Regions from separate parts of the Homo sapiens genome. Here all the other regions are reported to be linked to region 1. The links are microRNA targets in miRTarBase. Many come from high-throughput screens and were not tested one by one. Region 1 holds a microRNA gene; each other region holds the end of a gene's coding sequence.
What was found. Region 1 holds the annotated microRNA hsa-miR-1343-3p (CUCCUGGGGCCCGCACUCUCGC, at 3,734-3,755, opposite strand). A microRNA usually pairs through its seed, bases 2 to 8, with sites in the 3' UTR of a target mRNA and lowers its output. Matches are read on the target gene's strand: a 7mer-m8 pairs with bases 2 to 8, a 7mer-A1 pairs with bases 2 to 7 and ends in A, and an 8mer does both.

Region 1 (7,126 bases):
AAAAATCTATCAAAGGGGAAAAAAAACAGATTACCTCAATGGAAAGACTGAGAGTACACTTCTCAGCAGCTGCAACAGAGGTCAGAAAACAATGAAGTAATATCTTCAAAAAACTGAGGAAAAATAACTGTCTAGAATTTTGTATGCTGCCAAACCATCATTTGAGAATGAAAGAGAAGTATTCTTTAGATATATAAAGGCTAGGAAATTTTACCACCTATTAAAGATCTCTTTAAAAAGCTCTTACAAGATGCAGTTCATCAAGAAGAAAAGTGGAAGCAGATGGAACCCATGGGCTATAAGAAACAAGTTATTGTGAAAATTACTAAAATGTTAACTACTAGTATTTTTAAAGTAATGTTTGAGGGTTTAAAAAGTGTAAAACTCAAACTCTAAAAAATAATAAGATAGGTAAGGAAATGTTTAGATGGTAAGGCATGCTAACAACTTTGATATATTCAGCTGGTGCAAAAGTAATTTTATTTTTACCACCTTACTTTCAAAAACCCCAATTACTTTTGCATCAACTTATAATAGGAGAAAAATACTGAATAATACTAAACTTTATTGGCAAAATTTAATTTAAAATTTAAAAACAGAAATATAATCTACAGCATTAGAAAAACAGAGGAAAAATAAGAAGTTGATTATCTAACTGAGGGCAGGCACATGGAAAGAAAAGGCAAAGGATAAAAACAAAAATGCACAAAAAATGGTAGAAATAAGTCCCCATGTATCCGTAATCACAATAAATATAAATGGATTAAAATCACCCATTAAAAGTAGAGATTATCAAAATGGATATGAAAATAAAATCTAGGTAAATGTAGCTTACAAGAGATAGCCCTAACACAAAAACAGAATAAAAAACAAGGGGATAAAAAATATGTAACATATAAATACACCTCCTCACACACCAAAAATAGCTGGAATAGCAATATTAACAGGCAAGCATCATAAGAGAATATGAAAGAAAATCTAAAACACTAAATTAACAAATATGCTCTGAACGTTCACAGTACAGAAAGTACTTCATTGTGTACCAAGATGATCAAATTGATAGTTATATCTTCAGGTTAAATAGTTCAGAGACACTAATATAAGTTATTTTTAAAAATAAATTGATATGTTAGATGATATTTATTTACCACCTAAAAGGTCCTTTGTCTAACTCCAAAGAGATGTCCCTAGTCAACAAACATTTATTAAAAATGTATTGGGGTGGCCAGGCGTGTAGGCTCACACCTGTAATCCCATCACTTTGGGAGGCCGAGGTGGGTGGATCACCTGAGGCCAGGGGTTCAAGACCAGCCTGGCCAACATTGTGAAACCCCGTCCCTACTAAAAATACAAAAATTAGCCAGGAGAGGTGGCAGGCACCTGTGGTCCCAGCTACTCGGGAGGTTGAGGCAGAAGAATCACTTGAACCTGGGAGAAGGGGGTTGCAGTGAGTCAAGATCATGCCATTTCACTCCAGCCTGGGCAACAAGAGCAAAAACTCTGTCTAAAAAATAATAATAATTATATAAATATATTTTATATATATATACACACACACACACATATTTGTATTATATATTTATATATTACATATAAAATATATATACATATGTAGGCACTGAGGATACAGCAGTGGACAGTAATAACAGCAAAGATTTAAGATTCCTGACCTCAAGAAGCTTGCTTAATATCCATTGACAAGTAAACTGGAAAATACAGCAGGATAAGGTGAGGTCAGGATGCTTTGGGAATGTTCAGGAGGGGCATCTAATTCAGTTTTTGTAAGGTGAGAAAAGGCTTCCTAGAATACAATGACCACCTATTCTGAGCCTGAAGAGGTGAGGAGGAGACAATCTGTAAACAGGCAGTGATCCAGGTAGAAGGTAATACACTTATAGCCCTGGAGGCAGAGAGAACAGGAAACTTCAGAGAAACTGGCAAATAGTATGCGAGAGAAGTGACGAGAGATTAGGCTGGTAAGATATGCAGGAAGAGACCAAAAATGACCTTTGTATGTCATAGAGAAAGCTACAGTGTCAGATTATATCATCTTACATACTTCTTTAAATGTTTTAGTGGTTAAAACAGATTGCACTTCAAAAGGGAAAAAAAGCACACCCTCAAAGATTTCTGCTATAATCACGGGAAAAACTATAGAACTAGTAAACCCAGCAATTAAATACCTCTTAGATGCCTAGAAAACAGACTCTAGCCACAGAAAAACAAAATGATGCTATATCATCATTTGTGTTCATCAGTATTCAAATTCCAACCACACTTTAAGAACTACAGATTCGACTTCAGCTATATAACTTTCTCTGAGTAACTTGACCTACATAATTTTGTTCATATTCCAGATTCCTATAGTAGGTCTAATTTATTTAAAAATCACAAATTGCATATAAAATGTTATATTACTGCTAATTACTTTTTTAAATTGTGATTTCCTCTATTTACTAGACTATGAGCTTCTTCACAATACGGACAGGACACTTAAATGTTTTATATTCCCATCCCCATTCCTCAGGTTTCATGGCCAATGCACCATACCCAATGAATTTTAGATTAAAATGCTTTAGAAAAAAACATGATAACTTCACGAATCCTTATTTCCTCATAAGGTATACATCAAATTATCTTTTACATTTCTTTTGCTTCTAACATTTGATTTGTAGCATGCTTCTGATATTTAAAAAGATAGCCTTTTTTTCTTTTTTAAAAAACTATATCTATTCACATAACACAGACATATATGTTAGCTAGATGAGAATGCCAAGGGAGAGGGTAGAAGAGAAAAGCAGGAGGAGAGAGAAGGAAAAAAGGAGAGGACAAAAGAGAGGGAGGTAGGGAAAAGAAACACAGAACACTTTACCAATAAATCACAGGGAAGTTTTAAAAACATAGTAATATTACGTATGGAAGCATTACCCCTAACTCATCACAAAACCAAAGTTCTATCTTTCAATAATCAAACATCATGTAAATGCCAAAAGAAAACTCTGAGAGCAAATAATGAGCCATGAATATTTCAAATCTACTGAGTTTCAGCTGTGATCAAAAATTTAGTGCTATAACTTAGAAAGACTCCTTGGCAGAGTAGTTACAAGGAACCTCTCCTAATTCAAATATGAGTTTGATTCCAAGCTCTGACAGTTACTAGTGATCTTGACCAAGTTACTTAATCTCTCTGACTCTCAGGAAAATTTTAAATGTATAGATATATATTTTTTAAGTCATGGGGCTGGAAGTGTTAATGCTTCACATACATCTTTATGTAACACTTTACAACATCTCTAGGTAAAAATAAAATGTTAGCTATACAACCATTTTGAATCAAGACACATTTATTCCATATTCTGTCATGTCTACCTGAATCAAGATACGGTTTTTTTCCATATTCTGTCATTTCTACCAGAATCAGGACACATTTATTCCATATTCTGTCATTTCTACCAGATCATCCAACAAACATTAATGTATAAGGCACTGTACTAAGCACTGGGTATGAAAACAACAAAAAGAGAAGGTTCTGTCCACAAAGAGTTTAAAGTGGAGAAGAGTGGAAAAGACTCAGCAGCTAGGATAGAGGGTCCTGGACAGCGTGAGATGACAGATGGCTTCTCAGCTGTCAGGTTCATAGCTGACTGATTGAAGAAAGAGATGGCAGCCCTGGAGTGTTCCTGCACCATCTTCTCGTGGTCCATGGCAGTGGCGGAAGAGGAGCGGGCCCAGAGCGAGAGTGCGGGCCCCAGGAGGGGCCAGAGCAGAGGCCCACCCGGGGGCCGCTCCCCAGCACCGACGCCAGCATCATCGTCCTGTTCCTTTGTCCGATGGGCAGCTGCCAGAGCTGAGGACTGAAGTATACGGAGGCTTCCCTTTCTCTTTTTAAATTCTAGATATTAAGCATAGCCTTGGTCAAACACAGTTAATGGTGATGTTTATTTTATTAATAGAATAAGTCCTGAGGCTTTCACAAAATAATTTTGTTCTGCCAAAAATTAAGAATAAAAGTCTTTACGTAAAAGATGTGTGTGGTGGTGGTGGTGGAAGAGAGCTAGTTTTTATCTGTAAGACCAAGTTATCAGATTAACATGAACATTAAAGAAAAATTCCTCTTCTTAGTGCTATGTTGAACCATAATGATAACAATAATCAGAAACAAAAATAATTCAATTGTTGACTCTACAAGTATTTACTAGCTGCCCATGTGAATGACACTGTGTGCGACACTATGATAAAAATAGTAATAAAATAAGACAGAACTGCTTCAAGAAGTTCCTAATCTGATTGAAGAACAGTACAACAAGCAGGCAATGACAATCCCATCCAATTAGTACCTACAGCAGAATGGGAATGTAGAGGAGGGACCCCTAGTCAGTGTTTGTCATCCCTTTTCACTTCACACACACACAAAGAAGGATAATATTTGCATGGCCAAAGACCTGAGGCAACCTGGTTGCTAGGCCAGTTGAGGTCCTGCCCTATGGGGTGAAGGCATGAGTAGGAGAGTTTGAGAAGGGCCCAGTTAGACAAGGTCAACCACCCACACATCCCTCTGGCTTCTTAAAGTCTAGTAGCTACTGTATTCGACAGTTTAACACAGAACATTTCCATCACCACAGAAACTTCTATTGAATAAAACTATAATCTATAATTCCATTCACTAATTTAAAAATTCTGATATAATACAAAGATTTAGCAATAAATGTAAAAACGCATAATGATGGAATATAATTTAGTAACAAAAGGAATGAACAGCTGATAAATGCTACAACATGGATGAACCTTAATCATGCTAAATCTGAAAAAATCTAGTCACAAAAGACCAAACATTACATGCTTCTATTTATATGAAACATAGACAAAAGGCAAAACTTTAGAGACAAAAAACAGATCCGGATTGTCTAGGGATAGAGATGGGAGGAAAAAAATGACTGCAATCAGGCAGCAGGGATCTTTTTTGGGGTGACAGAAATGTGTTCTAAAACTGGATTGTGGTGATGGCTGCACAACTCCATATATTTATTAAAAATCATTGAATACTTAAAATAGGTAAATGTTATGGTATGTAAATTATACCTCAATAAAGCTGTGAAAACCATAGTACACCAAAAAAAGGAAGCTATTTGTGAAATGGACTTTTCAAAATTTTCCATTTTAGCACCACAAACATATACATATTGCCAGAAATAACGGAACCAAAGTGTCTTCTATAGTAGAATCCAGAGACCCATATAACTCTCTAGTGGCATCTAGTGATATAGGATAAGGCTTTCTTCAAAATGGTTTTATTTCTGAATTTTATACAGTAACAGTATATTAGACAAAAACTATTTGAAATACAAAAAAATCCCTTGTCTCATGACATAAGGAATACCGCAGCAACAAGCACCACTGTTAAGCATGCTTACTACGTACATTCTAGGCACTGTGGGTGTGGCTAAGTGCTTGATGGAATTATCTTAGCCTGGTTTTGTTCCATAGTGCTTCACGGCAGAGCAGAAAAATCTCAAATATTCTGAGGAAAAAAAACAAGGTTTTTCATAACCTCAAATATTCTCTTACAAAAGGAGAACAAGAATTTTTTTTCCTTTCTGTTATTTTAACAGATTTGACAGTTCAATTGATGAAAAAATAAACTAGGTGCAGTTTAAACTGAAAATATCTGAAGCACATGCCCCCTCCAAATAAAAAACTTGTAATAAAAATGCCAAATGATAGCTCAATTGACCTTTCAAAAGATTTTGAAATTGTGGGTGTTACCTAGCACTTTCAGAGCATTTTCTGTACTAATTTTATGATATATAAGGTTTTAGTCAATCCTCAGACTGAAATGAAGTACTCTAATAGTCATTATAAAACTTATTTTCTTAGAATCATGAGTTCAACAAAGACGGAAATAATTTATATGCTATAATACTGCATATTTCAGTTACTTAAAAAAAGAAAATAAAAATGAGTTATCATAGAATTATAAATCCAGGATATTCCGTACCTTAGATTTCAGCTAGTTCAACTCACTCCCAGGTAGTTCATGGCAGAGGAGGAACCCCAAAGGAAAAACCATGATTCCTGGGCCAGAGTTTTTTCTTTGCACCCTTACCTCCTTGGTGTAAAACGCTGCGCGCATGCAAGTGCACACACACACACACACACACACACACACACACACACCATTAGTAAAAGAAGCTGTGAATCAGTCTCAGATCTTTGAAAAAACTTAATGGTTTTTAAGACTGAACTGCTGTCCATTGAATGTTCTCAAATACTTATCTAGTCTTCGCTTAGAAGTAAACTAGATTCATAATTCGATGCAACACTATCATTTTTCATGAAAAATATCAATTTTCTTAATGCATAAAGGTTTAAACTCATTGTTTTATGGTGACCATACATTTAAAAAGATCTCAAAAATCAAACAAACAAAAAACAGTTAATAAGAGAAAAAATATATGAAAAGTATGCTGTCAGAATATAAATTTGTTTTTAATATAAAATGAATGGAGCAAGTTATCATAAATGTACCAAGAACCAGGCATACTTAAACATATATTGACACCCATGTATACAGTAAATAAGTGTTAATGAAAAGCAGCCAATTATACTCAAAAGATCACAAATCACAAAGGTGATGAGCTTCAAAAAGAAGCCAGTGAACCACTAAGAACCAAGGATTAAGATTGCTCTCAATTATTTACTGTGTTTTGGCAAAAACAAATTTCCCTTCAGTTGGCAGAACACAGAATTTTAAGAGCAACCTTCAGGGAAACATGCTCCAGGGACTTAAAATACATCCTGGCCTGTCCTACATGAAAATAGCATATTGTAATCAAAAGGAAAAAAGAACAGAATAATGAGACCATATGTCTGCTGGCTCTTTATCTTACTGCTCATATTCTAACGGGTGTGAATAACTTATTAGATTGCCAGTGAGCTGGAAGTCTGAAAGATAAATGTGGCCCAAGAATCCCCTCATCTGCTTACCTATAAATTCTCAAAGTGTGAAGAAAGTTAATCTTTTTAAAATAATCCCTAAAAGACTGTTCTGTGTCTGAATCATTATTTAATGACACCAACACCCTGTCATATCGAATATGGAAATAGCCAAAGCTCTGTAATTCATCAG
Region 2 (7,126 bases), not on the chromosome of region 1:
GTATATTGATTGTAGATGTTTTTGGCTACAAGTAACAGAAAACCTAATAGTGGCTTAAGCATTAAGAGTATTTATTATATATAACAAAAAGTCTGTAGATAAGATTGCTTTCTAATTGGAGTATTTTTTGACCTACCTCTTAAGGTAGTTGTGAGATAGTGACTGTAAAGTGCTTCATAGCTTGGATTATTTATAGAAAGCATTCATTAAGTGCTATTATTTTTTTTAAATATAGTCATTTACATTTCAAGGGGCTGAGTCTACATTCAGATCTTCAAACTGTTAAATTTATACAGGTGATATATTGGTGTCCTGACCAGGAGACAGGGTAAAAGTAGTCTCATACTTTATAAAAAGAAGTCTAAAACTTTTTTAAAATTAGTTTTATATTTTTAAAATGTAATCTCTTAGGCTTATAATCTAAAGTTTTAAAATTAGGCATGCTTTAATGTAACCTCATTCTAGAGCAGTAGTTATTTTTAAATTATATTCTAAAGTATTTCTTTATTGTAACAAAATTATGTTGTTTTCACAGGCCTTGCAGTTGAAATTCAGCCATAAAGAAAATGAAGTGATTTAAAATTGCAAATTTTTGTTACTTCAGTAGTTGTTAATATATAATTTTATTAAAAAGGTTTATTGAAAATCGTGAGGCACTTTATTGTATGGATGCCTTTAAACTTAGTAGACAAAGGTTTCTTTTTTTCTTAATCGAGAAACTTTCAATATTTTACAGTAGTTTGAATTACTGCTAACTCTAACATACTGCTTGTTTTATTATCTTTAAAAATTGAATGTGCATATCCTTGATATGAAGAAAATCTCATCAGGCAATTGACCCCAAATATGTCAGGGTATCTAAATTTTTGTCACTTGTAGTAATTTACATTTTTTTTCCTGTCCTTAGATATATTATTGTGTATTGAAGGAAGTATTCATGATTAAATTATTCACAGTTACTTGATGAAAGTATTCGTCAGAGTTTTCATGGCTGGTGTTATTTTAAATTTTAAGCGTATGTTGGATTGTGAAGATAGGAGAATAGGAACAAGACTTAAAAAGCTTGGAATTGGGGTCTCATGATGCTTGAGCTTTTGTACCCATTTTACTGTTTACTAAATCATTTATTATATTTAATAATTGTCAGAATATTAAGATAACTTGATTTTTAGATATCTAACTTTATGTTTTGTTTGTTTGTATAGGAAATGTTTTTCTAAAACATGGTTCAGAACTGCGGATTATTCCTAGAGATCGTGTTGGAAGTTGTTAATATCTGCTACTTGGAACATACGATTGCCTTTCAGAATAAATATTGGTATTTTTTGTTGTTGTAAAATTGAAATCAGGCATTTAACATACTATGAAAACACCAGGAGTCAATGATTAATGAAAGGTGACTCATCTGTCCCTTTTTGTTGTCCATACTCTTCCTATGAAGAGGGAATGCGTATGAATTAAGGCTACTACTGTCACAGAAGATCATAGTCTTTGATGCTACCTCACAACACAAACAGGTAGTTCGTTGGGGGCAAATGAATTAGCCAACTGTTAACTGGAAGCTTTTGATAATTTTTTTTTTTAGAACAATTTGGAACATTAAAATTTACTGAATCGTATATATTCATCTGAGATAAAAATATAAAAAGAATTATGGACCCTGGATGGCAATTTGCTTGATAGCATCTGATTTGCAGACTCATAATTTGATTTTTAATTAAATATATAGGTTGTGATGAAGTGAATAGACATATCAGTGAACAGTTAACTATATTAAATTTTTATCATTTACTTTTTTTAAGATTCAGACCTCAGTTATATAAATTTCAGTTTAATATCAACCAAAAAATTAAAATTTTAATCTAACCCTTATGTGTATAAATTGGTGTCCCATACCAGCTTTTAATGGTGGACCTATAGAATCCAGTACTTTTAATGGTGGGAATTTACAGTAGAAGCATCCTTTGCTGAGTTATACATTCCTTTATCAATCTCTTTTGATACAACATTTAAAACAAGTAGCTTCAAGAAACCACTGGTGTTTTGAGGATAGTATTTCTAAATAGCATTCAGGAACAGAGTATTATTGCACAGATCTGAAGATCAAAAAAAAGCTCAAGGAAATACAGATCGGAAGTGCTGATGAGTTATATTTATTGAAAACCCAACTTTTAAGGAAGTGCTAAGATCAGTCACCCATGTGAATAAGAAGCCAGGAAAGGAAAGATGGGGAAGCCCAGATCACCAGGCTTCTATTAAGGAGGAAAGCAACAGAGGAAACAGTGAAGGGGAACAGAAGGGGGTAGCAAAGTGTTACAGAAAAGCGGACTGGATAGACAAAACTGCAGAAGGTGTATGTTGGGGAGAACTGAAAGGGAAAACAAAATACTTGACATAGTCTTAAGTAGAAGAAGGCAGTTAGAGAAAACAAAGTATCTACTGGCCTTGTCAACATACAGACTTCAAAATACCCCTTATGAGAATCCAAAGAATGATGTGTGTAAGGGAAGATTTTATTTGCCCTTCCGGAAGAAATCAGTATCTATGCAAATCTTGAAAGACGAAATCAAAGCCCATTAATGATTCAGAATCAGTGCTTGACCTCCTGTATTCTGAATGGTGAACTCTGGAAGCAGGGATTGTGTCTGGCTCTTTTTAGAGCTGGAAATGTAGTGGCTTTCATTAAATACTTGCTGTAAAGTCTTTCTAAGACCAATTATTATCTTAGCATGTTTCAGTATCTTCTCTATCATAGGCCCTAAGTTCATTGGGGGAAAAAAAATAAGAAGATTCAACAGAATCAGCATTTGAAGTGTACCATTGGTAGTTGTTTATGAAATTACCAGATATTCATAAATGTGACAAATGAACAGCAGGATTATGAATTATCAAAGGAAAAAGTATTTGCTGAGGTGAAAAAATCTGATGTTTGAGGAAGTTTTTATTTTTATTTATTTGTTTTGTTTTTTTTTTTTTGAGGCAGACTCTCTGTCGCCAGGCTTCTCCTGCCTCAGCCTCACGAGTAGCTGGGACTACAGGCATGCACCACCACGCCCAGCTAATTTTTGTATTTTTAGCAGAGACAGGGAGGAAGTTTTTATTTTTATAAACAAAATCTGATGTTCAGAGGCCCCGTTTCTTACAATAAATGTTGAGTCTTAGTTAAGCAGGAATTTATGAACACCCATTTCCTGACTTTTTGCTTTAATTTAGATTTTTCTCCATCCTGTTTCTAGCACAAAAATTTGCCTGCTGTGTTACAAAAATAAATTTATGTTGTCCTGTGCCATAAAGTGATATATTTAATATTTTTATTCTTTGGTTTTGAACATTGTAAGTTCCTAAAAACATTTTATTAAACAAGTAGACATTTTGTTATTAAAAAAATGTGATCTGTAATTTCTTTGTGCAGAATGATTTGAAGTATTGTATTCAGTTTACATGCGTTATTGGTTTATAATTAATATCTAATGAAAATACATGTTGTTATATTGTAAACCATATTGTCTGTTCTTATTATTAGAGCTCTTAATCAGCACACCTTTTGAGTCAGTATATAATACATGTAGTAAAGAAAAAAAGGGCAAAGATGATTAATGACCATAAGTCAGAGAAATTAGTTTATAGTCATCTGCCACAGACATAGTAGTGATGTTTCGTCCAACAACAGACCGCATATATGACCGTGGTCCCATATTACTATATTTTTACTGTGCTTTATCTATGTTTGGATACACAAGTACTTACCATCATTTTACAGTTGTTTACAGTATTAGGTACAGTAACATGCTCTACAGGTTTGTAGCCTAGGAGCAATAGGCCATACCAAATAGCCTAAGTTTGTAGTAGGTGACATCAACTAGGTTTGTACAAGTACATTCTGATGTTCACATAGTGACAAAATTGCCTAAGGAAGCATTTCTCAGAATTTGTTCCTGTGATTCAGTGATACATAACAGTACTTGCAAATGCCTGTCCATTTTACAGACGGAAAAAAAAAAAAAAAAAGTTGAGAAGAAAATGGGGTTATTGTAACTGGCTAGGTTGGTAGGTTCCAAACCTGGGTGATAACAGAGTCGCCTAGGAAATTAAAAATACAGATTTTTGGAAACCACTCCTTGAATTCTGATTTATTACATCTGTAATAATATATAAAGATCCTCTGTAAACAGGAGTTCTGGTGATTTCTGCCATGCAGGTGGTTTGAGAATTAATGAGAAGGCCACCTTTTCACTTTGTAGAAGAACAGAATGAGGTCTAAGGGGTCAAAGTAAGTAGAATATGTTCTGGAATCTTGGACAGTGCACTTTCCAATGCTTGGTAAGTAGCCTGAGGTGAAGGTGCTAGCTAACAGTCTCACTCACTGCACAACCTTTGAAGTTTTTCTCCGGGAGGTGGGGGGCAGCCCCCGCCCGGCCAGCCGCCCCGTCTGGGAGGTGGGGGGCAGCCCCCGCCCGGCCGCTGCCCCGTCTGGGAGGTGGGGGGCGCCTCTGCCCGGCCGCCCAGTCTGGGAAGTGAGGAGCCCCTCTGCCCGGCCGCCACCCCGTCTGGGAGGTGTACCCAACAGCTCATTGAGAACGGGCCATGATGACGATGGCGGTATTGTCGAATAGAAAAGGGGGAAATGTGGGGAAAAGAAAGAGAGATCAGATTGTTACTATGTGTAGAAAGAAGTAGACATAGGAGACTCCATTTTGTTCTGTACTAAGAAAAATTCTTCTGCCTTGGGATGCTGTTAATCTATAACCTTACCCCCAACCCCCTGCTCTCTGAAACATGTGCTGTGTCCACTAAGGGTTAAATGGATTAAGGGCGGTGCAAGATGTGCTTTGTTAAACAGATGCTTGGAAGCAGCATACTCGTTAAGAGTCATCACCACTCCCTAATCTCAAGTACCCAGGGACACAAACACTGCGAAAGGCGGCAGAGCCCTCTGCCTAGGAAAACCAGAGACCTTTGTTCACATGTTTATCTGCTGACCTTCCCTCCACTATTGTCCTATGACCCTGCCAAATCCCCCTCTCCCGAGAAACACCCAAGAATGATCAATAAATACTAAAAAAATTTTAAAAAAAAAGTTTTTCAAGTCAAACATTCTTTAGATAAGTTTTTCTTAGAACTAGCTGTTCAAAAGAAACGTTAGTGGGAAGAAAATGCAATCCTATTTAATTCCTCTACTCCAATATTAAGATATTAAAACTTAATATCTTCGCGTAAAAAGATGTTTTTTACGCGAGGACCTTGAAGTATTCCTGAATTGGAAGCATTGTTATACTTTAATGGAGTGATTCTAAGTTAACTGATAGTGTTCCTGAGGCCATTTATAAAACCACACAAAAAATAATGATTTATATATGTAATTCATCCTAAAGAAATCTGTTGAACATCTACTGTGTGTCAAATATTTTGACGGATAATTTCATTTTTATTTACCCATTCTTTATAACAATTCCAGGTTATTTTCCCCTTTTATAGAAAAAGAAAGAGGCTTAAGTTGAGATTTGAAATTTAAACCCATGATTTGACCCAAACTCTGCACATTATACGGAGAAATTTTTAGTATATATTTTCTGTGATATACTAGATGCGTATTGAATCGCAGATTAAAAGTAAGAAAATATGTAAGGCTTAAATTCCATGTCAGAGTACTGACTGTGTGTAATGATAATGAATGGCCTTACTTTTTTAATACGTGGTGTATATATGGTATAAATATGATAAAATTCTAGGATATTAATTATAAACCAACCAGTAGTGGGAGTAGGGACTATGCCGCCATATTCATTAGCCTATCAGACATTGTGTTTTTTAATTTTAGTGTATTTTGCAAGTGAAGCTGCAAGGTTAGTCTCCTAATAGCCCACTTTTTCTACTAGATTGCTGCCCATAAACTTCTTTAATACAGAAATTCTGGAAGTGCCCTCTATTGGTTAGTGCTGGTGATGGGTAAATCATTACTCAAACTAGGCCATTAAACCATTAATTGAAATAAATACTCTTGAAAAGTTCAATCTATCCAACCTATTAACCATATCCTTCAAATTGACTAAGGTTCTCTTACCGTCAAATCTGTTACTCCTGATTTTCCTTTCTTGATGTATCAAGACAATCACAAAATTCTCTTGATGTTGTTAACAGAATATCTCAGCCATCCCCACTGTAACAAAAGCCCTCATCTTCTCGTTTATACTAAGAGCCTCTAGTCTCTTCATTTCCTCTTTCACACTTGCTGTAATGAGTTTTTTTATGCCATTTCATTAATCAAAATCCTACTGAATAAAAAATCTACACTGTCTGTGACATACGAGGCCCTTCATGAACTGGTCTGTGTTAGAGTCATCTGCTACTACTACTCTCTTCCTTACAGTTTCCTTCCCTAATTTACACCGCAGCTACACTGAACCACAAATAATGTTTAGTTATCTGTGATGTGCCATGTTCTTATGCTTTCATTTCTTTACTTACCCCATTTGTCTGCCTGGAAAACCTAGGATTTATTCTTTAAGATCAAAAGCCATTGAGCCTTTCCTCCCTCCTCCAAAGCAGTAGGTATTAACTGTCTAAGCAATTTTACATTTTGTATATTCCTCCATTCTAGCAATTACTAAATACAGAATTACTTGTCTCTAAAATATAAATTTTATAAAAGTCTAAGACCATGACTGAAACTAGGTTTCCAAATCGCTTTGCCCATAAACAAAAAGTACTTTATAATTGAAAAACTACATAAAAGAATATTTTGAAAATTAGAACTGTGTCTCATACATAAAGTAACTGCTTTTCACCAGATTATTTGGTTAACCGGTATACCCATGTTGCCCACTGTTTCTTGTAGCAGAAATTTACTTAAATTAACTACTTTTTTTAATTGTAAAACATTCTCTTATTTTTAAACAAACATTATTAGCTATATGCTGCATATTGTTAAATACTGGAGACGAAACATGATTAACATCCATTCATTCCCATTTCTTGGACTTTCCCAAATTTATACATTTCAAAAACACCAAAATTACCTGGTCTAGTAATCATGGACATGAAGATGTGTAACGAATCCCTTTTTATATGCTGGGCACAGTGTGAGGCACTTTACAGACATTGACTCATTTAATCCTTAATCCCTTCA
Region 3 (7,126 bases), not on the chromosome of region 1:
CTGATGCCTGTAGCCAAAGTGGGACATTTGAGTGGGCTTCTGGAAATCCAACATTCTAGAAGAAAGCCAACCACAAAAACTTTTGAGGAGGAGGAGAAACTTCTCTACCCTTGGTACTTTTGGTTGGTTGTGGGTGGTTTTCTTCAGTCCATTGTACTGATGTTCACTTTTTCCTCTCTTCCTGCCAAAAAAAGAAACCTGCTCCTCCAAAGCCAGAGCCCAAGCCTAAAAAGGCCCCTGCAAAGGTAAGTGCTAACATTGGAACTGATCATTTTCACAGAATGAGGACTGTCCTTAGTGCCTTAACTTAATTAGCATAATGGTGCCTCCATTAATGGAGGTTATAAACTGTGTGGATAGCTTACCTCGTCCGTGTCATTCATAACGTTGGTTTCCTGATCAAGAATTCTGTTGTTAGTTTATAGGAAAATCTGCATTTAAATATTAAATACCCCAGGGTTTAAACTAATTTATTCTTCTGTTACTTAGGAAATTCTAAGTACTAAAGATTATAGCAAATTACAGATAATTTAGCCTAGTTTTGATCAGTTGTTCTTGTCAAATGGGTGAGGGTTTGTGTTTTATCTTGAGTAAACAATCCTACCTTGTGCAGAACTTTGCAGACCATACCTTGGTAATACGAAATGGGGAGAAACAGTTCTATTTTTTCCCCTTTTTCAGAAGGGAGAGAAGGTACCCAAAGGGAAAAAGGGAAAAGCTGATGCTGGCAAGGAGGGGAATAACCCTGCAGAAAATGGAGATGCCAAAACAGACCAGGTATAACTGCTGTTTCACCCTTTGTTAGATTTGTTCATTCAGTTAGTTGCTGATATCAAAAATTTAATTGCCCTTTTCTTGTATCACTCCAAATGTACCATTTGGTCCAGTGTGCTTGTGGCTTTCCTGTTAACTTAAATCCTGGATTCTTGAAATCTCTACTGTCAGCTGAAGGGCATTGTGTTTTATACTACATGAAGTTTTCAAGCTAGGAGTAACCTCAGGTCTCTTATTCTGGTGTTCTTCCTACCTCAATTTTACAGTGAGGCCCAGAGGAGAGGTGACTTAGCAAAGTTACCTAGTAAGTCATTCTCAGAAGAAATACTGAGTCTCAGTACCTGAAACCTGAACTTTGGCCTGGGAGCAAAGTGATGCTGTAGGTGGAATGTGAACACAGATAGTTTTGAAATCTACGCATTGCATTAATTTGTCTGTTTTCTTTTAGGCACAGAAAGCTGAAGGTGCTGGAGATGCCAAGTGAAGTGTGTGCATTTTTGATAACTGTGTACTTCTGGTGACTGTACAGTTTGAAATACTATTTTTTATCAAGTTTTATAAAAATGCAGAATTTTGTTTTACTTTTTTTTTTTTTTTAAAAGCTATGTTGTTAGCACACAGAACACTTCATTGTTGTTTTTGGGGGAAGGGGCATATGTCACTAATAGAATGTCTCCAAAGCTGGATTGATGTGGAGAAAACACCTTTCCCTTCTAGTTTTGAGAGACTTCCTCTTGGCTCCCAGGAGGAGGGATTCCCTGACTTTGACACACATGGCCACCTTGGCACAAAAGCCTTGTGGTATAGAAAAACAAATTTGTTTTTATGTCCTCTTCTCCCTTTCCATCGTTCAGCATAGACTTAACTCCCTTAAGCCCAGACATCTGTTGAGACCTGACCCCTAGTCATTGGTTACCAGTGTGTCAGGCAATCTGGACTTTCCAGTGATGCCACTGAGATGGCACCTGTCAAAAGAGCAGTGGTTCCATTTCTAGATTGTGGATCTTCAGATAAATTCTGCCATTTTCATTTCACTTCCTGAAAGTCAGGGTCGGCTTGTGAAAAGTTGTTAAACAACATGCTAAATGTGAAATGTCAACCCTCACTCTAAACTTTCCCTGTTCAGAGCATCAGATGAAGACTTCATTGGGTTTTATAGTGGCTTTCTGATTTTTGGTAGTCCATTGAAGAAGGGAGTTTGAAAGTTGTTGTATACTGTTAACGATTGTCTGCCCATGTCCTGCCTGAAATACCATGATTGTTTATGGAAAGTATCTTTAATAAAGCTGGATACAGTTTGGCTTGGAATGCTGCCTCTGATCTTTTCCCACAAGTGGGGTAACCTGGTTTATCCAAGTCTCTTGGAACAGGGTACGTTCTGCTTTGAGGTACTCCATGTACAGTCTAATGATGATCTTTCACTGATTTATAGTCAGCTTCCAAAACACACAGTGCTAGGTGCAGTTAGGAAGGATTCCAGGAGTAGACTTAGCTGATGGTGAAAGGCTGGGAGTATGGAGTGATTTCTGTACTTGGTTATGCAGCATTCCCTGCAGTGTTTGTTTTTTGCATGACTCCGAATACATGAAGTGTATTAAATGCAGATTTTTGGTAGATCTGCGGTTTTGGCTGGGTAGCTGACAGGAGCCTCTCTACTTCCATCTGCATTTGCAACTTCTATAAAATTAGCAAATTAATAGACTCATGTCAGAGAGTGTCTCTGTGAATGTGTACACAGTTGTCCATTTGTAAGGTAGATGACACTTTGCTCCTAAGTAGACCTGCAAACAAAGACAATGGGGTCTTTCCTGATTCCTTTAGTTTGGAGATGCAGAGAACCCCACGTTTCTCTAAGTGAAATGGCAAGAAGTTATTTGTTAGAATATGGAACTGGTAACAAATTCATGTTTGCACCTTGAATTTGCTTTCACAGACCTGGCTGTATTGTTGGACAGGAATAAAGTAAATTGGAGACTAATTGCTTTGTCCATTCCCTTAGTCAAAAAAGTATCGCTGTTAAGTTCTTGAGGTTTTTTGTGTATTATCTCTCAAGTGTTGAGATGTTTGTGTAATATATGTATCACACTCATGGATGAGGAATCAGGCACAGATGAAACTTGTTGAAGGTTATGTGTACATTTAATGAGCAGCAGAGTCAGGATTCAGACCCTCAACTAGACAAAAGTCATCTCTGACAGACTTTTATTCAGGATAAAATACCATTTGTCCATTTAGCCAGTTACCAGCCATTTACTTTCATTATTGCTGAAGTCATTCATTCTAGGTTGTAGACGGGTAATTTTTATTCTAAAAGCGGTGTCCTCTTCCAGAGGAAACTTAAGAGACATCTTAGAATGGTCAGGGGTAGTGGGCTGGTATTTGAGCAGAGGTTGCAGAATTTGAGAAAGTTACAGCTGAGGTTCTTTGTTAGTGGCAAGTCTGCTAAGCCCTGGGCTATGCTAACAGCTCTGCCTCATGCTCTTTAATCTTTGAGTCAGACCTATGAGATACAGGTGTAGCCCCATTTTGTAGTCGAGAGTGAGGCTCAGATGTGAAGCGACTGGCTGAGGTTAAACTTGATAGTCTGTTTTTACTTATTTTCTGGCCCTCTTCTTGTTGCCATATAATTAGGATGAGTAGGGTAAGCTTGAACTTTTTCGAGTTTTTTTCTTTTTTTCCTTCCTGGAAAATACTGATTTGACTGGCTCTGGACCATGAAAGTAGCTGGGCCTAAAACCAAACCAGACATCAAAACGTGGTAAGGACCATTCACTAAGACAGCCATGGTAGCATGCTCAGTGCCAGCCCTGTCTCCAGGCCCATTCTTAAGATCTCGGGAAAAGTCACCAGATGCTTGGGCTCTAAGTAAAAAAAAAAAAAAAGTAACATAAATGGCACAAACTAGAGGATTCATCTGATACAAGTCCCGAGGTCGGGCAGTTGTGAGGACCCAGGTGGGCTTCCTGTCTTTCTGCTCTGCCGCCCTCAACATGTTCTCCAGCCACCTCACCTTCAAGGCAGTTGCTCCAGACATCGTAATTTGCCATACCAATGGCAAGAGGCTGGAGGACTGCTCCTTTTTTCCCTGCATTTAAGAAGAATGAAATATTTCCTACAAGCACCCCAGCAGCCTGTGTTTCACTGGGCAGATCTGGATTGCCTCTCCACTCCTAAACCAATCATAGCAAGAGGAATGAAACCACAGAATCTGCCTAGACCAGTCAGAATTGTTGGAATTCAATAGAGGAGGGATGATGATAGAGGAAAATGGCTGTTGTGTGGACAGCCTGCTGCACGGTCTCTTCAGGCCTGGCCTGATTCATTGCAGCAGTTAACACTGCTGAGAATTACCCCTCCCCTTCTTTAAATTGAGAAATAATCATATACCATTAAAAGTCACCACTTTGGGGGGAGGGATAGCATTAGGAGATATACGTAATGCTAAATGACGAGTTAATGGGTGCAGCACACCAACATGGCACATGTATACGTATGTAACCTGCACGTTGTGCACATGTACCCTAAAACTTAAAGTATAATAATAATAAAATTTAAAAAATAAATATACTTAACGCTCTTGGGGAAAAAAAAAGTCACCACTATATCATTATTTTAAGAGATGGAGTCTTGTGTTGCCCAGCCTGGTATTCAACTCCTGGGCACAAAGCAGTCCTCCCACCCTGGCCTACCAAAGTGCTGGCCACCACACCCAGCCAAAATTCACAATTTTAAAGCATATACTACAGTGGTTTTAGTACATTCACAACATTGTGCAACTATTGCCACTATCTAATTCTGGAATATATACGTGTGTGTGTGTGTATATATATATATATAAATATATGTGTATATATATATAAATATATGTGTATATATATATAAATATATGTGTATATATATATATATATATATATATATATATATATATATATTTTTTTTTTTTTTGAGATGGGGGTGTCTCACTGTGTCACCCAGGCTGGATTGCAGTGGTATGATCTCAGCTTATTGCTCACCGCAGCATCTACCTCCCAGGCTCAAGCTCCCACCTCAGCCTCCCAAATAGCTAGGACTACAGGCACACACCATGCCTGGCTAATTTTTTGTGTTTTTGGTAGAGACAGGGTTTTGCCATGTTGCCCAGGCTAGAGTCTTGAACTCCTGACCTCAAGTGATCTGCCCACCTTGGCCTCCCAAAGTTCTGGGATTATAGGCATGAACTACCCTGCCCAGCCTCTGAATATTTTCATCACCCCCAAAAAGCTCCATGCCCATTAGCAGTTAACTCCCCATTTCTTCCTCCCCCATCCCTAGACAATCACTAATTACTTTCTGTCTCTCTAGACCTTTTCTGGATATTTCATCTAAATGGAATCAATCTGTGTTTTTTCACGACTGGTTTCTTTCACTTAGCATGTTTTCAAGGTTCATCCGTATCATATGTATTTGATAACTTGTACTGCCAAATAACATTCCATTGTATGGATATATCACATTGGATAAGTCACATTTTATTTACTCATCAGTTGATGTACATTTGGGTGATTTCCACTTTGGGACTATTGTGAATAATGCTGCTACAAATATCATATAGAAGTTTTTGTAGGCATATGTTTTTAGCTCATTTGGGCACATACCTAGGAATGAAATTGCTGGGTCATATGGTAACTCGTACTTTTTTCTTTCTTTCTTTCTTTTTTTGAGACGGAACTTCGCTCTCGTTGCCCAGGCTGGAGTGCAGTCACATGATCTCGGCTCACTGCAACCTCCTCCTCCCAGGTTCAAGCAATTATTCTGCCTCAGCCTCCCAAGTAGCTGGGATTACAGGCATGTGCCACCATGCATGGCTAATTTTTTGTATTTTTAGTAGAGACGGGGTTTCTCCATGTTGGTCAGGCTGGTCTTGAACTCCCGACCTCAGGTGATCACCTGCCTTGGCCTCCCAAAGTACTGGGGTTACAGGTGTGAGCCACCTTGCCCGGCCTTTTCTTTCTTTTTAAGACAGTATTGCTTTTGTCACCCAGGCTGGAGTGCAGTGGCGTGATCTCAGCTCACTGCAGCCTCCCCCTCCTGGGCGATTCTGCTGCCTCAGCCTCCCGAGTAGCTGGGATTACGTGTGCCCACCACCACACCCGGCTAATTGTTTGTATTTTTAGTAGAGACAGGGTTTCATCATGTTGGCCAGACTGGCCTCAAATTCCTGACCTCAGGTGATCTGCCCACCTTGGCCTCCCAAAGTGCTGGGGTTACAAGTGTGAGCCACCATGCCTGGCCTCATTTATTTATTTATTATTTTTTATTTTTTGAGACAGAGTCTTGCTCTGTCTCCCAGGCTGGAGTGCAGTGGTGCAATCTCTGGTCACTGCAACCTCTGCCTCCTGGATTCAAGTGATTCTCCTGCCTCAGCCTCCCGAGTAGCTGGGACTACAGGTGCCCGCCACCACACCTGGCTAATTTTTGTATTTTTAGTAGAGACAGGGTTTCACCATATTGGCCAGGCTGGTCTGGAACTCCTGACCTTGTCGTTGTGATCCGCCTGCCTTGGCCTCCCAAAGTGCTAGGATTACAGGCATGAGTGGGAGCCACCGTACTGGCTTTTTTTTTTTTTTTTTTTTTTTTTGAGACAGTCTTGCTCTCTCGCCCAGGCTGGAGTGCAATGGCGCGATCTCAGCTCACTGCAACCTCCGCCTCCCGGGTTCAAGTGATTCTCCTGCCTCAGCCTCCTGAGTAGCTGGGATTACACGCACCCAACATCATGCCCAGCTAATTTTTGTATTTTTATAGAGAGGGGTTTCACCATGTTGGCCACCAGGCTGGTCTTGAACTCCTGACCTCAGGTGATCTGCCCACCTCAGTATCCCAAAGTGCTGGGATTACAGGTGTGAGCCACTGTGCCCAGCCTGTGCATCTTTTTTTAAAGAAGTGTCTATTCACATCCTTTGCCAAGTTATAATTAGGGAGTGTGTGTGTGTGTTTAACATGCTTCTCAGGAAAGTATTCTTTGTGGGTTGTTTTTATTGTTGAAGTGTAAGAGTTCTTTTCTCTTACTTTTCTTTCTTTTTTTTTTTTTTTTTAGAGTGAGTCTTGCTCTGTCACCCAGGCTGGAGTGCAGTGGCATGATCTCAGCTCACTGCATCCTCTGCCTCCTGGGTTCAAGCAGTTCTCCCTGTCTCAGCCTCCAGAGTAGCCGGGATTACAGATGACCACAACTGTGCCCGGCTAATTTTTTTCTATTTTTAGTAGAGACGGGGATTCACCATATTGGCCAGGCTGGTCTCGAACTCCTGACCTCAGGTGATCCGCCTGCCTCGGCCTTCCAAAATGCTGGGATTACAGGCATGAGCCACCTTTTCTA
Region 4 (7,126 bases), not on the chromosome of region 1:
GAGTGCAATGGTGCGATATTGGCTCACTGCAACCTCTGCCTCCTGGGCTCACACGATTCTCCCGCCTCACCCTCCTGAGTAGCTGGGATTACAGGCGCACACCACCACACTGGGCTAATTTTGTGTATTTTTAGTAGAGACAGGGTTTCACTATGTTGGCCAGGATGGTCTTGAACTCCTGACCTCATGGTCCGCCCACCTCAGCCTCCCAAAGTGCTGGGATTACAGATGTGAGCCACCGCGCCCGGCCAAATAAACTTTTTATTAAATCCAATTCTGGAAGTGATATTGATGTCATACATGTATTAAGCTGGAAAAGTATGAATATTAAAATAACATTTAAAACTTCCTACTTTTAAGATAATTCACCTCTTAATTACAAGGAAAAGCACTACATGTCAATAAACATTTCGAATTTACAGCCTACTTCTTCTATTTAGTCTTACATTAAATTAATAGTAAATATAGCTATTGATCTATTGGTTGAACAACTCAATTTCTTGGATGCTAGTTATTATCCATGGTCTCTGCTGCGCACAGTGGTAAAGTCCTACACAACTGCAGTTCTAAAAACTGACATCTATAAGGACCTATCAAAAATTAGTTTATTTTTCATTATTTTTAGATATTAAAATCCTTTCATCTCCAGTATCTGCCTTTTAGCCATTTCTCTAGCACAGAGTCTGGAATATAATTGGAACCCTATAAATATCTGTTGGATAAAAGAACATTGTTAATTTCCCTCAGAAAGTCACACCATCATAGGAGATTTAGCAATCATTATTGACAAAAGAATCAAAACTCATGGCTCCTTTTATTTACCCCACACTCTTTTGGTCATGCTTGTCCTCAACACATTGAGGGAGAATAAACCAAGTCCGGAGATGCAGCAAGGCCAGGGAGCAGGGTCTTGTGAACTCTGCTAAGGAGTTTGGGCTGATATCTAGGAGTCATGGAGAGCTTCAGACCTGGAGGGTGTTAAGCAAGGAAGCTTAAGAAGGTCAGGAAGCAAGGAAGGTCAGAATTGTGGTGGTTGAGAGAGGCCACTCGGGGTCTGTATGAAGGATGGATGGATGGATGGATGGATGGATGGATGGATGGATGGATGGATGGATGGATGAATGGGGTAGAGAGACACTGGTTAAATAGCTACTGAAAGGTCCGATGCAGTTGCTCATGTCTATAATCCAAGCACTTTGGGAGCCCAAGATGGGAGGATCACTTGAGCCCAGGAGTTTGAGACCAGCCTGGGCAACATAGCGACATTCCATCTCTACAAAAAAACAAACAAAAATTAGCCAGGTGTGGTGGTGCACACCTGTAGTCCTAGCTACTTGGGAGGCTGAAGCAGGAGAATCACTTGGGCCTAGGAGTTTGAGGTTATGGTATGCTGGGATCATGCCACTGCACTCCAGCATGGGCAACATAATGAGACTGTCTCTCAAAAAAAAAAAAAAAATACTGAAATCCAAGTAAAAAGGAGATGGTGGTCTAAACCAAGATAATGGCAGAGGAGATGGAGAGAACAGATTCAATAGACCTTTGTAAGGCTGAGCTGAAAGAACCGAGTGACTGACTGCAGGTGAACAGGAGGGGAGGGAAGAGTCAAGAATGAGGCCCAAGTGTCTGGCAGAAGCACAGGGAGGAAAGTCACACCATCATAGGTGATTTAGCAAGAAGGAAGCCAATTTTAGACATATTAGATTTGAGGCTTTTCACCTATAGAAGATTCTAGCAAAAGCATGCTAGTTGCAATTTAAGATATAGATCTGAAGGTCAAAAAAGAATTAGGATGGAAATATACCTTTTTGGATTTTATTCCAGATCAGTATTTTATTTTTTTTACATATATTGAAATCTCAAGGTAAAAAGTTGAATACAGTTAAGACCAAAGGCTTATTCTTAGATTTCTGAGCTTGAAATATACTATTGCCTATTAGAAAACCAAATGGCTATAAAAGGTATTTATATTTTCTTTAGATATTTAGACACTTAATACCATCTTCAGCATTAGAGTTATTTAATGGGTTAGGAATAAAAATGCATGATCTTTGACTTTCTTCTCTGGGTGAAGTACATTTAGAAGACTGCTCCTATTGGTTCTATAAATATGCCAGGGGAGCTCATGTAAGAATAGGTACTTCTCAATATGCCAGCATTCATGCCCATGTAGTAATTAGTAGTTTAGGTGGATAAACTCCAATGTATCTGGTGGGCTCTGACACACTCTCCTGAATACCGCCCTCCTTTTGCATCCTCAAATGGCATGGCACACCCCATAGTCTTAGTCCACCAGACAAATCCTCTAAGTGCCCCTCTTCATATTTGTGAAAGGAAGGTATTTTTTTTAAAACATTTGGTGAAGCTGCTTATAGTTGTAGTTGGGAAAGTGGGCTTACTAGCTATATGATCTTGAGCAAGTTATTATTTCATCTTTTTGACCTTGGTTGCCTCATCTGAAAAATAGAAATGGTAACAGTACTTACCTCTTGGATTTATGAATTTTAGTTATGCAAAAGTACTTCAGAGCAGTGCCTGCGGCATATTGTGTGTACTCAATCAGTATCTGTTATTACTAAATACTTCTGTTGAAGACAAAATTTTCTTTCTCTTAAGCTCAACATCACTACTGATGGAAAATCTTGGAAATAATTATTTCAGATCAGGTTTTCCAACCAGGAACAGGATTTCATATTTGAGATATAACATCTAATGCTAGCCCCTCTCTGAGAACTCCTAGGGGATCTGAAAAAGGTCATTGTAGGATGGAATCTTACTAAGCAAAGTTAAGAATGATAAGGTAAACTGTTAGGAAAAGGATTTCCATATGACTAGGGGATTAGGGCCACAGCAGCAAGAGTTAATATCTGAAGTTTACTGAAGTAACAGTTCTACAGCCCTAACTGGCATGTACCCATCAAAAATGTGGAGATGTAAGAGAGTTTAAAAATAAAAGCATAAATTAAATTTAAGTAGTGAGATTTATCATCATTTCCATAAAATGAGAGCTGGTTAATCAGGACAAATAAATTTTACCAAATGGATGTAACAGGGCCAATGAAACAGTGACATACATGTATGGTAAGCAACCTCAGAAACAGGAAAGGCTGTACTTCCTTTTCACCAAAGAGACAATTCTGCTCCCAGAAAGCTTAGCTATGAATACACTTGAAATGAGAGCTTTACCAAAGCATGAACCTAGGACACATGCTTTTAAATTGGCAGTTAACATTCTTGAAAGCAATGGCTTAACAATGGTTATTAAGTGATGTACTGCTTAAAGTAAAACATGGACTATACCTGATTACAAATTACATCCAGTCTGTACAAGTTGAATACATACCATACTTTAATAACCAAGACAATTCAGCTGTTTTTCCAGAGTATATTTCAAACAGAGTTGGCATATAACCCGTATGTAACAATATTGCTGTGATTTTAGTCATATTTAAGGGTCCAAAATATGTTCACAAAAGAACAGTTTGTGAATGTCAACCAGTTTTTGCTTTATATTCCTTCAAAAACATTCCACCCTGGTCATTCACACTAATCTACATCACTGAAAATAACCAAAATAATTCACAGTCTCACCTCTATGTAAAAATTCTAATTGACTCAACAGGGAAAGGACTGCCCTGCTCCTTTTGAGGAAGGAAACCTGCAAGGCAAGTTCTCAATCCCTAAAACCAAGCAAAAATGTTCCAGTGCAGTTGCTGTAGCCATGTATTTAGGATTTGTATTTATAGAATTAAATTTGAGAATGAAACATGGCCATACACATCGCAATAAGCTGCCTCTCATATCAAAAATACAATGCAAAATGACTTGAAGACATTTCCAATAACACAGATTTGAAAAACTGAACGCTTAGACATAACTCCTGCATCTTTCTTTAATTAAGAAGTCATTGCCACACTTACAAAGTTAGAGGCAGTAATCTATATTAGCGTGTGATTAATCAAAGAGTACACTTACTACCATGAACTTGGGCCCTATGTCATAGAATTATTTTTGCCTTTCCCCCAAAGAATCATTTGCTCTTGAAGTAATAGGCTTTTTAAGGCACATTTTAACAAAAACCCATCATATACCCAGCTTAAACATGGAAGCTCCAACCTGGTTATAGTAATAAATATACCTAAGTAATGTGTGATTTACCAAATAGGCTAGTGTCTCTAGCTTGAGGATAAAGTCATATTAGAAAACTGATTCTTCATTTGCTTATTCAAAGTGAAACAACATGTAAAAAATATTAGAGAATTAGATTTATAACAATAACCCCTAAGTGTCAGGTCTGTTGGCAAAGGTCCAACAGGATATAGCTCTGGAAATCAGGGAGCCCTGGGCTCCTAACCATCCAGGTTTCGGAGTAGGAATCATGAGGAAAGGAGTTAGGGCACCTTAATTATTTTTAGAAATCTCCTTTCAAAATGCACAGAACCTTGGGAGGCTCAAACCTTAAACACCAACCAGATATCATCTTAAATTCAGTTACCAGCTTCAAAGAAACAGGACTTGGGGAGAGGAAGGAGAGAGGTTGGAAAGAAGCCACAGAGAGAAGTGGGAAAGTTTAGGCTGGGCACAGTAGCTCAGGCCTGTAATCTCAGCATTTGAGGAGGCCAAGGCAGGAGGATTGCTTGGGGCCAGGAGTTTGAGACCATCTTGGGCAACACAGTGAGATCCTGTCTCTACAAAAACAAAATTTAAGAATTAGCCGGGCGTGGTTGTGCACACCTGTAGTTCTAGCTACTAGGGAGGCTGAGGTGGAAGGATCCCTTGAGCCCAAGAGGTAACAGTGAGCTATGATTGTACCAATGTATTCCAGCACAAGCAACAGAATGAGGCCCCCCTCTAAAAAAAAAAAAAAAAAAAGTTTCAAGTATAAGTTGCTTTAGGGACTTTATATATTTTGCTAGGACCAACTTTGATGTTCTTAGGAGGCTCTGCTTTAAAAAAAAAAAAATCTCATTTTCTAATGCCCCACAAGCATGCCTTAGGGTGCTAACCCTTGAGATGCACGTAAAATTATCTACTTGGAATGATTTGGCATAGGGGTAGATTTAGGACTCTTAATTTCCTGTTAGTCTAAAGTAAACATAAGTGAAATAATTTCACAGAAACAATTACACAGCTAATTGTAATGTCTCTCCAGCCATCCTTTTCCCACTGACCTTTAGGGGTCTTCAGGATGACTCTTCAGCCTTGCAGAGCATGCTGGTGGCAGGCTGAGCTTGGCTTAATCATAAGGTGGGAACAAGTGGAGTACATGAGGCATGTTATCACCAGTGAGAAGGAGATGTGGAGGTGACAAAAGTGACTAACAGGATTGAGCTCCATGGTGGGGTTCTGCGATTTGTTCTATTCACTATGGTCATGGAGCAATAAAGAACTGGTCCTGAATAAGCATTTTAAATGCAGCACACCAGACCATCGCACAGGGCCAAAAGTCCAGAATTGTATCTATGTTTTTTAGTCTGCAGTTGCCAATCACATACTTTTGGAACAACTTTAGGCCTCTGATGTTACTTTAGCCCTGGGTGGTAGGTACAGAAAAGCCTCCAGAAACCCTACAATTCAGTGACATTCTTACTTCTCTCCAGTGTTCGGCACCATTTTGGAAATCTGGTCCCAAAGTTTCAAAAGAATACTAATGCAACAAAAAGAAATAACCTCTCTGTATAAAGTGATTATAGAGATGTGTGTTGAGGTAAACAGCTTCATAAAAACCGTTGAGCAGGGAAGCACAGCCACTGCTATAGAAATTTTTAGGTAAGTCTGGTGCTAGCATTATTCTACAAAACTGTTTACACCCATTATAAATAGGGGACAGTTCTTATTGCTCCTGGAGCTTGTAGCTCCAATCTGTTCCAGCTCCACTGAAAAATGATTTTTCTCAACAATTGGTAGCAAAGATTTCCAAATTTACAAAAAGTCATTACCAATGCATCACTTTTTGATTAATTTCTGATTGCCATATAGATATGGACTACAGTATGCATGTCCTTGACACCAAGTACAGAAAAAAAGCTTAGAAAAGTCGTTTTATCAAAGTTCAGTTCAATGAGAAACATGAAAAAGTGCAAAATATGTACAATTCCTGGCAGTTCTCACACGGGATTTTTTTGACTACAGACCATAAAAGTTTACATTTGTGTAATGAAATGACAATGGATTTCACATCACTGTTAATATACAAGTTTTTGCTTCAAAGTGCTTACTTTATTTATAAAAGAGAAGATCAAGAGGGTTGCAGGAATTTTTTTTTTTTAACAACAAATCAATGGTATGTGTCCCAATCTCCTTCTTCCTCTTCCTTTAGTGCAACATGGCGCAGCAGCCTCATGGATAAGGTCTGATTTCAAAAGACATTCCTGAAACCTCACCTACAGCAGCACTCTAGGGGTCCCATTAGGGGTGGCTCTCTTTTTCTTCTGCAGCCGATTCTGAACCTTTCGAGATTTTACTACTTTCATTCTCACCTCAAAAACTTCATGAATGGCCTTCCGGAAGCAATGAAAATTATAGTCAATTAGCCCTGGAGAAGAGAACAAAAATATTTATAAATGTCACGTAGAAATAATCTCCATCTTTTCATGGGACCCATGGCCAGGACAAGCCAGTAGGGGGCAGTAGAGGATGGTCTTAGCGTAAGGACCAGAGATTTCCCTGGGATGTCTGCAGCTGGCCTTCAGAAATTGCTATAAATCTTTAGGAATTATAGGCAAAGTCTTGTGAAGGAAGATTTTTCCTGATGCAAGGTTGCAGAGCATAGACCATATTTTCAAAGGTTCCTATGACCCAAAAGATTTAAAGAACGACTGAACTGAACTTTTTTTTTAACCTTTCAGAATTAAAGATTTCTTACAATTAAGAGAAATCTGTAATGAAAAATGTTTCTCCCCAAAGGGCATTATTAGACTGAGTAGAGGCAGATCCTGACTTGGGATCCCAAAGCTGTGTATCAATCAATAAATATTTACTGAGTATCTATTATATTTAAACCATTCTCATAAGCCCGAGGGAAAGCGAAGCCCCTAATTTTAGAGTGTTAACAGTCATCTCGCCAACTCCAGCAGAAATTCAACAACCAATGACACTCAGCTTTTCAGTATTAAGTATTTTAAGT

Region 2: the mRNA of UFM1 is a reported target of hsa-miR-1343-3p. Seed matches in the 3' UTR shown: 7mer-A1 at 2,213-2,219.
Region 3: the mRNA of HMGN2 is a reported target of hsa-miR-1343-3p. Seed matches in the 3' UTR shown: 7mer-m8 at 1,515-1,521.
Region 4: the mRNA of RRAGD is a reported target of hsa-miR-1343-3p. Seed matches in the 3' UTR shown: 7mer-A1 at 6,095-6,101.

The regions. Positions count from the first base shown.
Region 1 is chr11:34,938,517-34,945,642 of GRCh38, reverse strand. It overlaps MIR1343 (microRNA 1343), which reads right to left and starts at 3,806; the gene lies at 3,723-3,806. The region is part of intron 2 of PDHX (pyruvate dehydrogenase complex component X); the gene reads right to left.
Region 2 is chr13:38,359,506-38,366,631 of GRCh38, forward strand. It overlaps UFM1 (ubiquitin fold modifier 1), which reads left to right. Exons shown (of 6, transcript NM_016617.4): 6 at 1,206-4,114. The coding sequence ends at 1,273. Among named protein-coding and RNA genes, the nearest start is that of UFM1, 13 kb to the left of the region's middle. RefSeq lists an enhancer at 4,619-5,127.
Region 3 is chr1:26,473,891-26,481,016 of GRCh38, forward strand. It overlaps HMGN2 (high mobility group nucleosomal binding domain 2), which reads left to right. Exons shown (of 6, transcript NM_005517.4): 4 at 195-245; 5 at 682-777; 6 at 1,223-2,752. The coding sequence ends at 1,258. Among named protein-coding and RNA genes, the nearest start is that of HMGN2, 5.0 kb to the left of the region's middle. RefSeq lists a silencer at 5,054-5,254.
Region 4 is chr6:89,361,673-89,368,798 of GRCh38, forward strand. It overlaps RRAGD (Ras related GTP binding D), which reads right to left. Exons shown (of 7, transcript NM_021244.5): 7 at 2,944-6,535. The coding sequence ends at 6,384. Among named protein-coding and RNA genes, the nearest start is that of UBE2J1, 13 kb to the left of the region's middle. RefSeq lists an enhancer at 6,365-6,594.